Regions from separate parts of the Homo sapiens genome. Here region 2 is linked to region 1. The links come from fine-mapping of genetic effects on gene expression. A gene starts in region 1. The other region holds a variant in brackets. All regions are shown on one strand. Distances are from middle to middle. Region 1 holds the start of VEGFA (vascular endothelial growth factor A). Region 2 overlaps SCIRT (stem cell inhibitory RNA transcript).

Region 1 (5,362 bases):
TGATGGCTATCCCTCCTTGGAACCCCTCCAGCCTCCTCTTAGCTTCAGATTTGTTTATTTGTTTTTTACTAAGACCTGCTCTTTCAGGTCTGTTGGCTCTTTTAGGGGCTGAAGAAGGCCGAGTTGAGAAGGGATGCAAGGGAGGGGGCCAGAATGAGCCCTTAGGGCTCAGAGCCTCCATCCTGCCCCAAGATGTCTACAGCTTGTGCTCCTGGGGTGCTAGAGGCGCACAAGGAGGAAAGTTAGTGGCTTCCCTTCCATATCCCGTTCATCAGCCTAGAGCATGGAGCCCAGGTGAGGAGGCCTGCCTGGGAGGGGGCCCTGAGCCAGGAAATAAACATTTACTAACTGTACAAAGACCTTGTCCCTGCTGCTGGGGAGCCTGCCAAGTGGTGGAGACAGGACTAGTGCACGAATGATGGAAAGGGAGGGTTGGGGTGGGTGGGAGCCAGCCCTTTTCCTCATAAGGGCCTTAGGACACCATACCGATGGAACTGGGGGTACTGGGGAGGTAACCTAGCACCTCCACCAAACCACAGCAACATGTGCTGAGGATGGGGCTGACTAGGTAAGCTCCCTGGAGCGTTTTGGTTAAATTGAGGGAAATTGCTGCATTCCCATTCTCAGTCCATGCCTCCACAGAGGCTATGCCAGCTGTAGGCCAGACCCTGGCAAGATCTGGGTGGATAATCAGACTGACTGGTCCCACTCTTCCCACAGGCCTCAGAGCCCCAACTTTGTTCCCTGGGGCAGCCTGGAAATAGCCAGGTCAGAAACCAGCTAGGAATTTTTCCAAGCTGCTTCCTATATGCAAGAATGGGATGGGGCCTTTGGGAGCACTTAGGGAAGATGTGGAGAGTTGGAGGAAAAGGGGGCTTGGAGGTAAGGGAGGGGACTGGGGGAAGGATAGGGGAGAAGCTGTGAGCCTGGAGAAGTAGCCAAGGGATCCTGAGGGAATGGGGGAGCTGAGACGAAACCCCCATTTCTATTCAGAAGATGAGCTATGAGTCTGGGCTTGGGCTGATAGAAGCCTTGGCCCCTGGCCTGGTGGGAGCTCTGGGCAGCTGGCCTACAGACGTTCCTTAGTGCTGGCGGGTAGGTTTGAATCATCACGCAGGCCCTGGCCTCCACCCGCCCCCACCAGCCCCCTGGCCTCAGTTCCCTGGCAACATCTGGGGTTGGGGGGGCAGCAGGAACAAGGGCCTCTGTCTGCCCAGCTGCCTCCCCCTTTGGGTTTTGCCAGACTCCACAGTGCATACGTGGGCTCCAACAGGTCCTCTTCCCTCCCAGTCACTGACTAACCCCGGAACCACACAGCTTCCCGTTCTCAGCTCCACAAACTTGGTGCCAAATTCTTCTCCCCTGGGAAGCATCCCTGGACACTTCCCAAAGGACCCCAGTCACTCCAGCCTGTTGGCTGCCGCTCACTTTGATGTCTGCAGGCCAGATGAGGGCTCCAGATGGCACATTGTCAGAGGGACACACTGTGGCCCCTGTGCCCAGCCCTGGGCTCTCTGTACATGAAGCAACTCCAGTCCCAAATATGTAGCTGTTTGGGAGGTCAGAAATAGGGGGTCCAGGAGCAAACTCCCCCCACCCCCTTTCCAAAGCCCATTCCCTCTTTAGCCAGAGCCGGGGTGTGCAGACGGCAGTCACTAGGGGGCGCTCGGCCACCACAGGGAAGCTGGGTGAATGGAGCGAGCAGCGTCTTCGAGAGTGAGGACGTGTGTGTCTGTGTGGGTGAGTGAGTGTGTGCGTGTGGGGTTGAGGGCGTTGGAGCGGGGAGAAGGCCAGGGGTCACTCCAGGATTCCAATAGATCTGTGTGTCCCTCTCCCCACCCGTCCCTGTCCGGCTCTCCGCCTTCCCCTGCCCCCTTCAATATTCCTAGCAAAGAGGGAACGGCTCTCAGGCCCTGTCCGCACGTAACCTCACTTTCCTGCTCCCTCCTCGCCAATGCCCCGCGGGCGCGTGTCTCTGGACAGAGTTTCCGGGGGCGGATGGGTAATTTTCAGGCTGTGAACCTTGGTGGGGGTCGAGCTTCCCCTTCATTGCGGCGGGCTGCGGGCCAGGCTTCACTGAGCGTCCGCAGAGCCCGGGCCCGAGCCGCGTGTGGAAGGGCTGAGGCTCGCCTGTCCCCGCCCCCCGGGGCGGGCCGGGGGCGGGGTCCCGGCGGGGCGGAGCCATGCGCCCCCCCCTTTTTTTTTTAAAAGTCGGCTGGTAGCGGGGAGGATCGCGGAGGCTTGGGGCAGCCGGGTAGCTCGGAGGTCGTGGCGCTGGGGGCTAGCACCAGCGCTCTGTCGGGAGGCGCAGCGGTTAGGTGGACCGGTCAGCGGACTCACCGGCCAGGGCGCTCGGTGCTGGAATTTGATATTCATTGATCCGGGTTTTATCCCTCTTCTTTTTTCTTAAACATTTTTTTTTAAAACTGTATTGTTTCTCGTTTTAATTTATTTTTGCTTGCCATTCCCCACTTGAATCGGGCCGACGGCTTGGGGAGATTGCTCTACTTCCCCAAATCACTGTGGATTTTGGAAACCAGCAGAAAGAGGAAAGAGGTAGCAAGAGCTCCAGAGAGAAGTCGAGGAAGAGAGAGACGGGGTCAGAGAGAGCGCGCGGGCGTGCGAGCAGCGAAAGCGACAGGGGCAAAGTGAGTGACCTGCTTTTGGGGGTGACCGCCGGAGCGCGGCGTGAGCCCTCCCCCTTGGGATCCCGCAGCTGACCAGTCGCGCTGACGGACAGACAGACAGACACCGCCCCCAGCCCCAGCTACCACCTCCTCCCCGGCCGGCGGCGGACAGTGGACGCGGCGGCGAGCCGCGGGCAGGGGCCGGAGCCCGCGCCCGGAGGCGGGGTGGAGGGGGTCGGGGCTCGCGGCGTCGCACTGAAACTTTTCGTCCAACTTCTGGGCTGTTCTCGCTTCGGAGGAGCCGTGGTCCGCGCGGGGGAAGCCGAGCCGAGCGGAGCCGCGAGAAGTGCTAGCTCGGGCCGGGAGGAGCCGCAGCCGGAGGAGGGGGAGGAGGAAGAAGAGAAGGAAGAGGAGAGGGGGCCGCAGTGGCGACTCGGCGCTCGGAAGCCGGGCTCATGGACGGGTGAGGCGGCGGTGTGCGCAGACAGTGCTCCAGCCGCGCGCGCTCCCCAGGCCCTGGCCCGGGCCTCGGGCCGGGGAGGAAGAGTAGCTCGCCGAGGCGCCGAGGAGAGCGGGCCGCCCCACAGCCCGAGCCGGAGAGGGAGCGCGAGCCGCGCCGGCCCCGGTCGGGCCTCCGAAACCATGAACTTTCTGCTGTCTTGGGTGCATTGGAGCCTTGCCTTGCTGCTCTACCTCCACCATGCCAAGGTAAGCGGTCGTGCCCTGCTGGCGCCGCGGGCCGCTGCGAGCGCCTCTCCCGGCTGGGGACGTGCGTGCGAGCGCGCGCGTGGGGGCTCCGTGCCCCACGCGGGTCCATGGGCACCAGGCGTGCGGCGTCCCCCTCTGTCGTCTTAGGTGCAGGGGGAGGGGGCGCGCGCGCTAGGTGGGAGGGTACCCGGAGAGAGGCTCACCGCCCACGCGGGCCCTGCCCACCCACCGGAGTCACCGCACGTACGATCTGGGCCGACCAGCCGAGGGCGGGAGCCGGAGGAGGAGGCCGAGGGGGCTGGGCTTGCGTTGCCGCTGCCGGCTGAAGTTTGCTCCCGGCCGCTGGTCCCGGACGAACTGGAAGTCTGAGCAGCGGGGGCGGGAGCCAGAGACCAGTGGGCAGGGGGTGCTCGGACCTTGGACCGCGGGAGGGCAGAGAGCGTGGAGGGGGCAGGGCGCAGGAGGGAGAGGGGGCTTGCTGTCACTGCCACTCGGTCTCTTCAGCCCTCGCCGCGAGTTTGGGAAAAGTTTTGGGGTGGATTGCTGCGGGGACCCCCCCTCCCTGCTGGGCCACCTGCGCCGCGCCAACCCCGCCCGTCCCCGCTCGCGTCCCGCTCGGTGCCCGCCCTCCCCCGCCCGGCCGGGTGCGCGCGGCGCGGAGCCGATTACATCAGCCCGGGCCTGGCCGGCCGCGTGTTCCCGGAGCCTCGGCTGCCCGAATGGGGAGCCCAGAGTGGCGAGCGGCACCCCTCCCCCCGCCAGCCCTCCGCGGGAAGGTGACCTCTCGAGGTAGCCCCAGCCCGGGGATCCAGAGAACCATCCCTACCCCTTCCTACTGTCTCCAGACCCTACCTCTGCCCAGTGCTAGGAGGAATTTCCTGACGCCCCTTCTCTTCACCCATTTCCTTTTTAGCCTGGAGAGAAGCCCCTGTCACCCCGCTTATTTTCATTTCTCTCTGCGGAGAAGATCCATCTAACCCCTTTCTGGCCCCAGAGTCCAGGGAAAGGATGATCACTGTCAGAAGTCGTGGCGCGGGAGCCCACTGGGCGCTTTGTCACATTCCACCGAAAGTCCCGACTTGGTGACAGTGTGCTTCCCTTCCCTCGCCAACAGTTCCGAGTGAGCTGTGCTTTAGCTCTCGTGGGGGTGGGTCAAGGGAGGATTTGAAGAGTCATTGCCCCACTTTACCCTTTTGGAGAAATGGCTTGAAATTTGCTGTGACACGGGCAGCATGGGAATAGTCCTTCCTGAACCCTGGAAAGGAGCTCCTGCCAGCCTTGCACACACTTTGTCCTGGTGAAAGGCAGCCCTGGAGCAGGTGTTTTTTTGGAACTCCAAACCTGCCCACCCAACTTGCTTCTGAAAGGGACTCTAAAGGGTCCCTTTCCGCTCCTCTCTGACGCCTTCCCTCAGCCAGAATTCCCTTGGAGAGGAGGCAAGAGGAAAGCCATGGACAGGGGTCGCTGCTAACACCGCAAGTTCCTCAGACCCTGGCACAAAGGCCTTGGCTACAGGCCTCCAAGTAGGGAGGAGGGGGAGGAGTGGCTGCCTGGCCACAGTGTGACCTTCAGAGGCCCCCAGAGAAGGACACCTGGCCCCTGCCTGCCTAGAACCGCCCCTCCTGTGCTCCCTGGCCTTGGAAGGGGTATGAAATTTCCGTCCCCTTTCCTCCTTGGGGCCCAGGAGGAGTGGAGGGTCCCGGGAGAATATTGTCAGGGGGAAGGCAGGGGGTGTCATGGGAATGGGTGAGGGGGCTGAGGTGCAGAATCCAGGGGGTCCCTGCAGGAGCCGCAGTGGTAAGCTGTCCAGCTGGAAGCCTGGTAACTGTTGTTTTCTCTTGAGAGGGGCTTCCTGTGACCTTGGCTGTCTCTGGGAGCAGGGCTGGGGTACCTGAGTGGGGTGCATTTGGGGTGTGTGGGAAGGAGAGGGAAAGAAAGATGGACAGTGGGACTCTCCCCTAGCAGGGTCTGGTGTTCCGTAGGCTAGAGTGCCCCTCTGCTCTGCGAGTGCTGGGCGGGAGGGGAGT
Region 2 (5,362 bases), 290 kb after region 1:
ACAGCTGCATTCTGAGGACAGTAATTATTGGGCACCTGCTGTGTGCCAGGCCTGATGCTGATGTTTTATCTGCACTTGCCCCATTTAGTCTTCAAGGTAGGTATCGCTCTCCCATTACACAGATAAGAAAGCTGAGGCCTAGAGATGAGTGTCCAAAGTCACCCAGAGAGCAAACAGAGAAGCTCGGGTTGGAATTCAAGACTCCCATCCCTCAGAATCTGTGATCTTTCCTCAGGAGCAGGGTGTGCTCCTTGGCCGTTAATGTCACAAACACTGGGGGGGCTTTTTCTTAATGCAGCATCCTAAGACCCTCCCTAGAGCTAGAGAAGCAGAGTCTCTGGGTGGGATCCAAGAGTCTACCCCTGAATAAAATAGCTGCCTCTGGCCTTGGACCTCCTTTAACCTAACACAGCCCCTATTGCAGACAACTGGACCCTGAAGAAGGAGAAAGGAGATGGAGCCCAGTCAATCTGCACGCTTACCTCCAAGGGGATGGATGCAACACCACTTCTGTGCCCCCTTCATCCCCAGGATCCCTCGCTCTCTCCTGGTGCTTGGGCCCCAACAGGCAGAGTGGGACAAAGGAGGGCAAGGAAACATCTCCAATATGTTTTCCAAAGCACGGTGGGTGAGAGGAGCAAGAGGGTCAATGGGGCCTACCTCCTCTGTCCATTGAGGGATACAAGTGAAATGCGGAGGGACTGATACCCTGGACAGTACCCAGGGGCTCCATCAACTGGGGGCGGAAGACCAGTTCTGGGGGTGGGGGAGGTTCTTTCAGACTGGCCCTGCTGCCTGCAGCACGAGGAAGACCCTCTGTCCACTCCTACATCTCCCCCAAACCCCCATGGATGTGATTGGACAGCCGCCCCAGGCACTCTGTGCTGCGGGGGCAGCAGACGCTTGGTCCTCAGTGAGGAGTGGAGAGGGATCAGCATACATCACATCACACTTGGCACGGCCCCCATTGGTGGGCAGCATGCCACCGTGTTGGTGAGCTGTCTCCCTGCAGAGCCTTCACAGGCGGCAAGGGAGGGGCTTCCAGGGGAATCACTGCCTATCAGGAGTGGCACAGCCCCAGGAAGCCCCCCGGACCATCCCTAGTTCCTGCCTTGCCTGGGCCCAACCAGAGCTGGGCTGAGGAAGGGAAAAGGGAGAAGGGCACTGGGGCTGGGAGATGAATTCCAGGCTGGGCCATGCTGGGGACCTCAGGCCACAACCAAGGGCTCGATCCCAGAGGGAGAGGCCTCCCACTAATCACATTCAGGTGACCGGAAGCTCTGAGGCTCTGGACCCTGCTTCCTGGAGATGTTAGGGAGGAGAGGGAGAGAGGAGTCCCTTGGCTCTGGGCCAGTCCACAGACTTCTCCCCAGAGGCCCAAGGGCTGTTGGGGGGGGATAGAAGACCCACTATCAACTCCCACGTCCACCCACACCCAAATAATGCCTCAGTCTACAAGAAGCCAGGTCCCATAGAGTTGAGGGAGCTCACAGTCTGAAGGAGGAGACACTTCCTGCTGTCTGGGATCTGCCAGTCTGAGGGCAGAGACGTAGCCACTCCCTTCCAGAACATCAACCTCCCAGTCTCCTCATTGTCTCCAAACAGGGCTAACACTCTTCTGTCATCCCTTTCATCCTGATCTCAGTCCTTCCAGACTCAAATCACTGCCCTCCTCATCCTCAGAGCCTTCCTGGATGACCACACAGCTCCAATCCTCCACCCTGGCACTCTTAGAGCAGTTAATTTGGTGGTGGACAGATAATTCCTAATGGCATGCAAAGAACTCATATTTCCTAGGCACCACCTGTACCAGAGGCCTGGTGGCAGGACCTTGATCATGCAAACATGACATGATCCAGGCATGCAGGGAGCTTCCAGTTCAGGAACATTAGGACGGACCAAGAAGATACAGTGAACTGTCAGTTAAACATCATCTTTTCCCAGACATTTCTGCGTGTGTGTGTGCGCGCGCGTGCGTGTGTGTCCCCAGCTAGGCTGGGACTTTGTTAGAGCAAGACAGGAACTGAGCTTAAATATCAGGCCACACCCCCATCTAAACTAAGTCCCTAGGATATTCTCCCAGAGCCCCATGTAATTTTCCCTCTTGGCACACATTACAGTTTGTAATTCTTTTTGGTGTGACTACTTGCTTTAAGACTCTCCTTTTCCAGGCTCTATAAGAGTAGCTGAGTCCATGGCTTCACCCGTGTATCTTGAGCACCTGGCATATTTGATGACTGAATGAATGATTTGAATGAAAGCACCACATTCCTATTCATGCCCTTGCCCCTAGCACACAACCTGTAGGTGCTCAGTGCTCAGATTTGGCAGGATGGCAAAGTAAAAAGAAGCCCATCTTGCCACAGCTAGGAATTCAAGGTCAATCCCAGAGCAATCCCAAGGCAGTTCATCAAGGAAGACTTCCTGGTGGAGGAGGACATGGACTGGGGACTTTCAGCCTCACATCTGTTCTTCCAGTTCATCATCTGTTTCTGGCAGGAACTCCTGAGGACAGAGGTTACGTCTGGGTCTCAGGGCCATCCCCAGCACACCCCCATTCAAGCTGCGCATGACCTGCCCCACTGTCGACAGCCAGCTGTGACTCACAACTCCTGAGCCTTTCCTCTTGGCCAGAGATCGTGGAGTAGATATTACAGTAACATTACTAACCACAAGTAGAGGCGGTGACCGTACTTACGCTCAGAGCACCTCCCCCCACCCCTGAGACCAGAGCAATGACCTCACACTCATGTTCGGCAGCAAGCACGGACAGTCCTGCCCGGAGGCAGGGGGATGGCCCACATGGCCCTGGTCTTCCAGAGAAGCCCAGCGTCTGGCCTCTTCCCCTCAGCGCTGGTCACATTCTCCCCACCTTCCCCTCCAAGCAGCCCACCTGGGGTAGGTGCTGAGTCCCCTGCTGCTGCCTCCCCCGGGTGAAAGCAGAGTAA[A/C]CAGTCCCCCTCTCCCCCGCCTCCCTGGGGAGGGCTGGAGGAAAGAAAGGGAAGTGACAAAAGCTGCCCTATCCCTGTCCTTCCTCACTGCTGGGTCTAGGACACTTATTCTGGGGAAAGTGGCGTCTGAGGATGTGGCTGCAGTGGCCAGTTGCTGGCGCCAGCAGAAATCCCCAAGCCCGTCAGTAGACTCTGTTCAGACGCGTTCGCTGACCATGGCACTGAGTAAGTGCTGAGGAGACACCTGAGGACCCAGGTCACGCCCCTGCCTGCCCTCTCCTCCCAGACAGGCCCCTCCTAGGGCTCAGACCATTCCAGTTCCTCTTGTCAGACCCTGAGAAGGCCCAGGGCATCCACCCCTACAGGGAAGGCTCAACAGGAAAGAAAGAAACACACAGGAACTGGGCTCAGAGCCCAGCTGCGTGCTCTTGGGCAAGTTACTTAACCTCTTTAGGCCTCAATTTCTCAACTATAAAATGGGACTAAGACTAGCTGCCTGTTGAGCTGTTGTGAGATAAGTGAGTGCACTGGCCTGGATCTGCAGACGGTGGACAACAGCCAACGGCAGCCGGATGTGGCATTGTGCTGCTGCCTTTAGCAGCTCCAGGCAGTAACTACTGAGTATCAGGGAAGAACTGAGACCTCAGAGAAGGGAGAGAACCAGGATTGCTTGAGGCAGGGCGTTGGGAAGGCCCCACTTACCCTCTGGCAGTTGCAATCTAAAAGGAACAAAGAGGCTTTGTGGCAGATCCTGTCTCCTAATATCCATTCCTCGTTTATTTCCCAACTTTTAGCCAGACCCCCATGGAATAAAGACTAGACTACCTAGCTTCCCTTGCAGCTAGGTATGGCTAGATGACTGAGTTCTGGCCAATGGAATATAAGTGTGACTTCTAGGAAGCTTCCTTGAAGGGAAGGGGCATGTCCTTCTTCAGGCTTTCTTCTTCCTTCCTGCTGGCTGGGGCTCCAGCAGCCATCTTGGGCAATGAGGTGACCCTGGAAATGGAAACCACACCTAGCAGGTCAGAAAGATAGAAGGAGTCTCTGACCACATCCCAGAAATATTTTACATGAGCAAAAAATTCACTATTTATCTTGTGTAAACCAAAATTTAACTGATACAAGCTTCTCCTCTGGTGAAATAATCTCGACTCATGTGTGGCTGGGCAGAGTAGGATGGATGAGGTGTCTAGAAGAGAAGAGTTACCAGGGGTGTGATGTCCCCATCCAGGAGCACTTCCTCCTACTTGCCCTGTGAGGTCAGGAGGAACCCTGTTGGGAGGACTTGGCTCCAGGAGGATGGATGGATGGATGGATGGATGGATGGATGGATGGATGGATGGATAGATAGATGGATGGAAAGGAGGGAAGAGCCCAGGTAAATGCATGAGATGAGGAGAAATACCTAGAAGGAGGAAATACCCTGGGAAAACACTTCAGATGACAGAGAGCCAGGCTAGGGGTGTGGGGATAGCAGAACAGGATGGCCTACCTGACTCACTGCCCAAGTCGGACTCTCAGTTTTCCCACCTGTGCTTTGGGAATGGGCCTTATCGCCTCACTCAGGGCCAGCGTGAAGTGATTCAAAAACCAAACCAAAACTAAACAGAGAATCAGTGTAGCATTAAATCCGTTGTCAGCCCAGACAAAACCCTTCTCTGTGCCTGGGATTCCTATAAAGTAAGGATACCCGTGGACCCCACCTCACCTGGCTGTTGTGAGTATTCAGCGAAAGGGCTACTGTAATGTGCTCATCACAGTGTCTGGCACAAGGCAAGTGCTCAGTAAGCAGTCAGTGCTATTATTGCTGCTGTTGAAATCCTGCCCTGGGGTGTGAGGAACAAGAAGCTGCCACTTGATTGGTCTGTGGCATGAGTTAGGGAAAGAAACCTGGACTCCTCACTCCAGAATAATATCTCCAGCGCTTTGGGGACCTAAAGGACCAGGTAATGCCTTGGGAGCACCACACCATAAACACACATCAGGATCCTGACGGCATAAGATGGAATGGGGGTAGTAGGGAGACCTGGCAGGGTGGGGGCAGCCAAGGCTTAAATTTTGGTACCACTGCCTGGGACCCCTGGAGGGACAGCTGTCAGGTCAGGCCCTGACCCCCAAGCTCTCCTCCTTGGCCAGGCCAGGTCCACATTTGGTCACAAGAAGCTGGCAAGAGGCCAGACAGGGCCGCAGATGCCATGGAGAGGGCAAACACAGGCCCGACGGAAAGGGGGAAAAAATCGGGCTTGTTCTGCCTGGGCAAGAGCAGGCTCAGGGGTGACATCAACGCCATGATAAGCAGTTAGATGAGTTAATGCCCAGGGATGCTTTTCCTGAAGTTCCCCAGAGAAAGTTGGGGGTTAAATGATGAGTGTGTTGGCAGATTTGTACCCTCAAAAAATTACGAGTGTGACCAC

The links.
Region 2: its variant is fine-mapped to the expression of VEGFA in whole blood (TOPMed, PIP above 0.99).

Annotation. Positions count from the first base shown.
Region 1 is chr6:43,767,978-43,773,339 of GRCh38, forward strand. VEGFA (vascular endothelial growth factor A) reads left to right here and starts at 2,234. Exons shown (of 8, transcript NM_003376.6): 1 at 2,234-3,335. The coding sequence starts at 2,730. RefSeq lists silencers at 2,047-2,296, 2,674-3,613, 3,684-4,203 and enhancers at 2,659-3,424, 3,425-4,190, 4,191-4,956, 4,957-5,362.
Region 2 is chr6:44,056,049-44,061,410 of GRCh38, forward strand. The region is part of intron 1 of SCIRT (stem cell inhibitory RNA transcript); the gene reads right to left. Among named protein-coding and RNA genes, the nearest start is that of SCIRT, 16 kb to the right of the region's middle. RefSeq lists an enhancer at 2,516-2,695 and a silencer at 2,996-3,065. The variant A/C (reference allele first, on the strand shown) is at 2,949.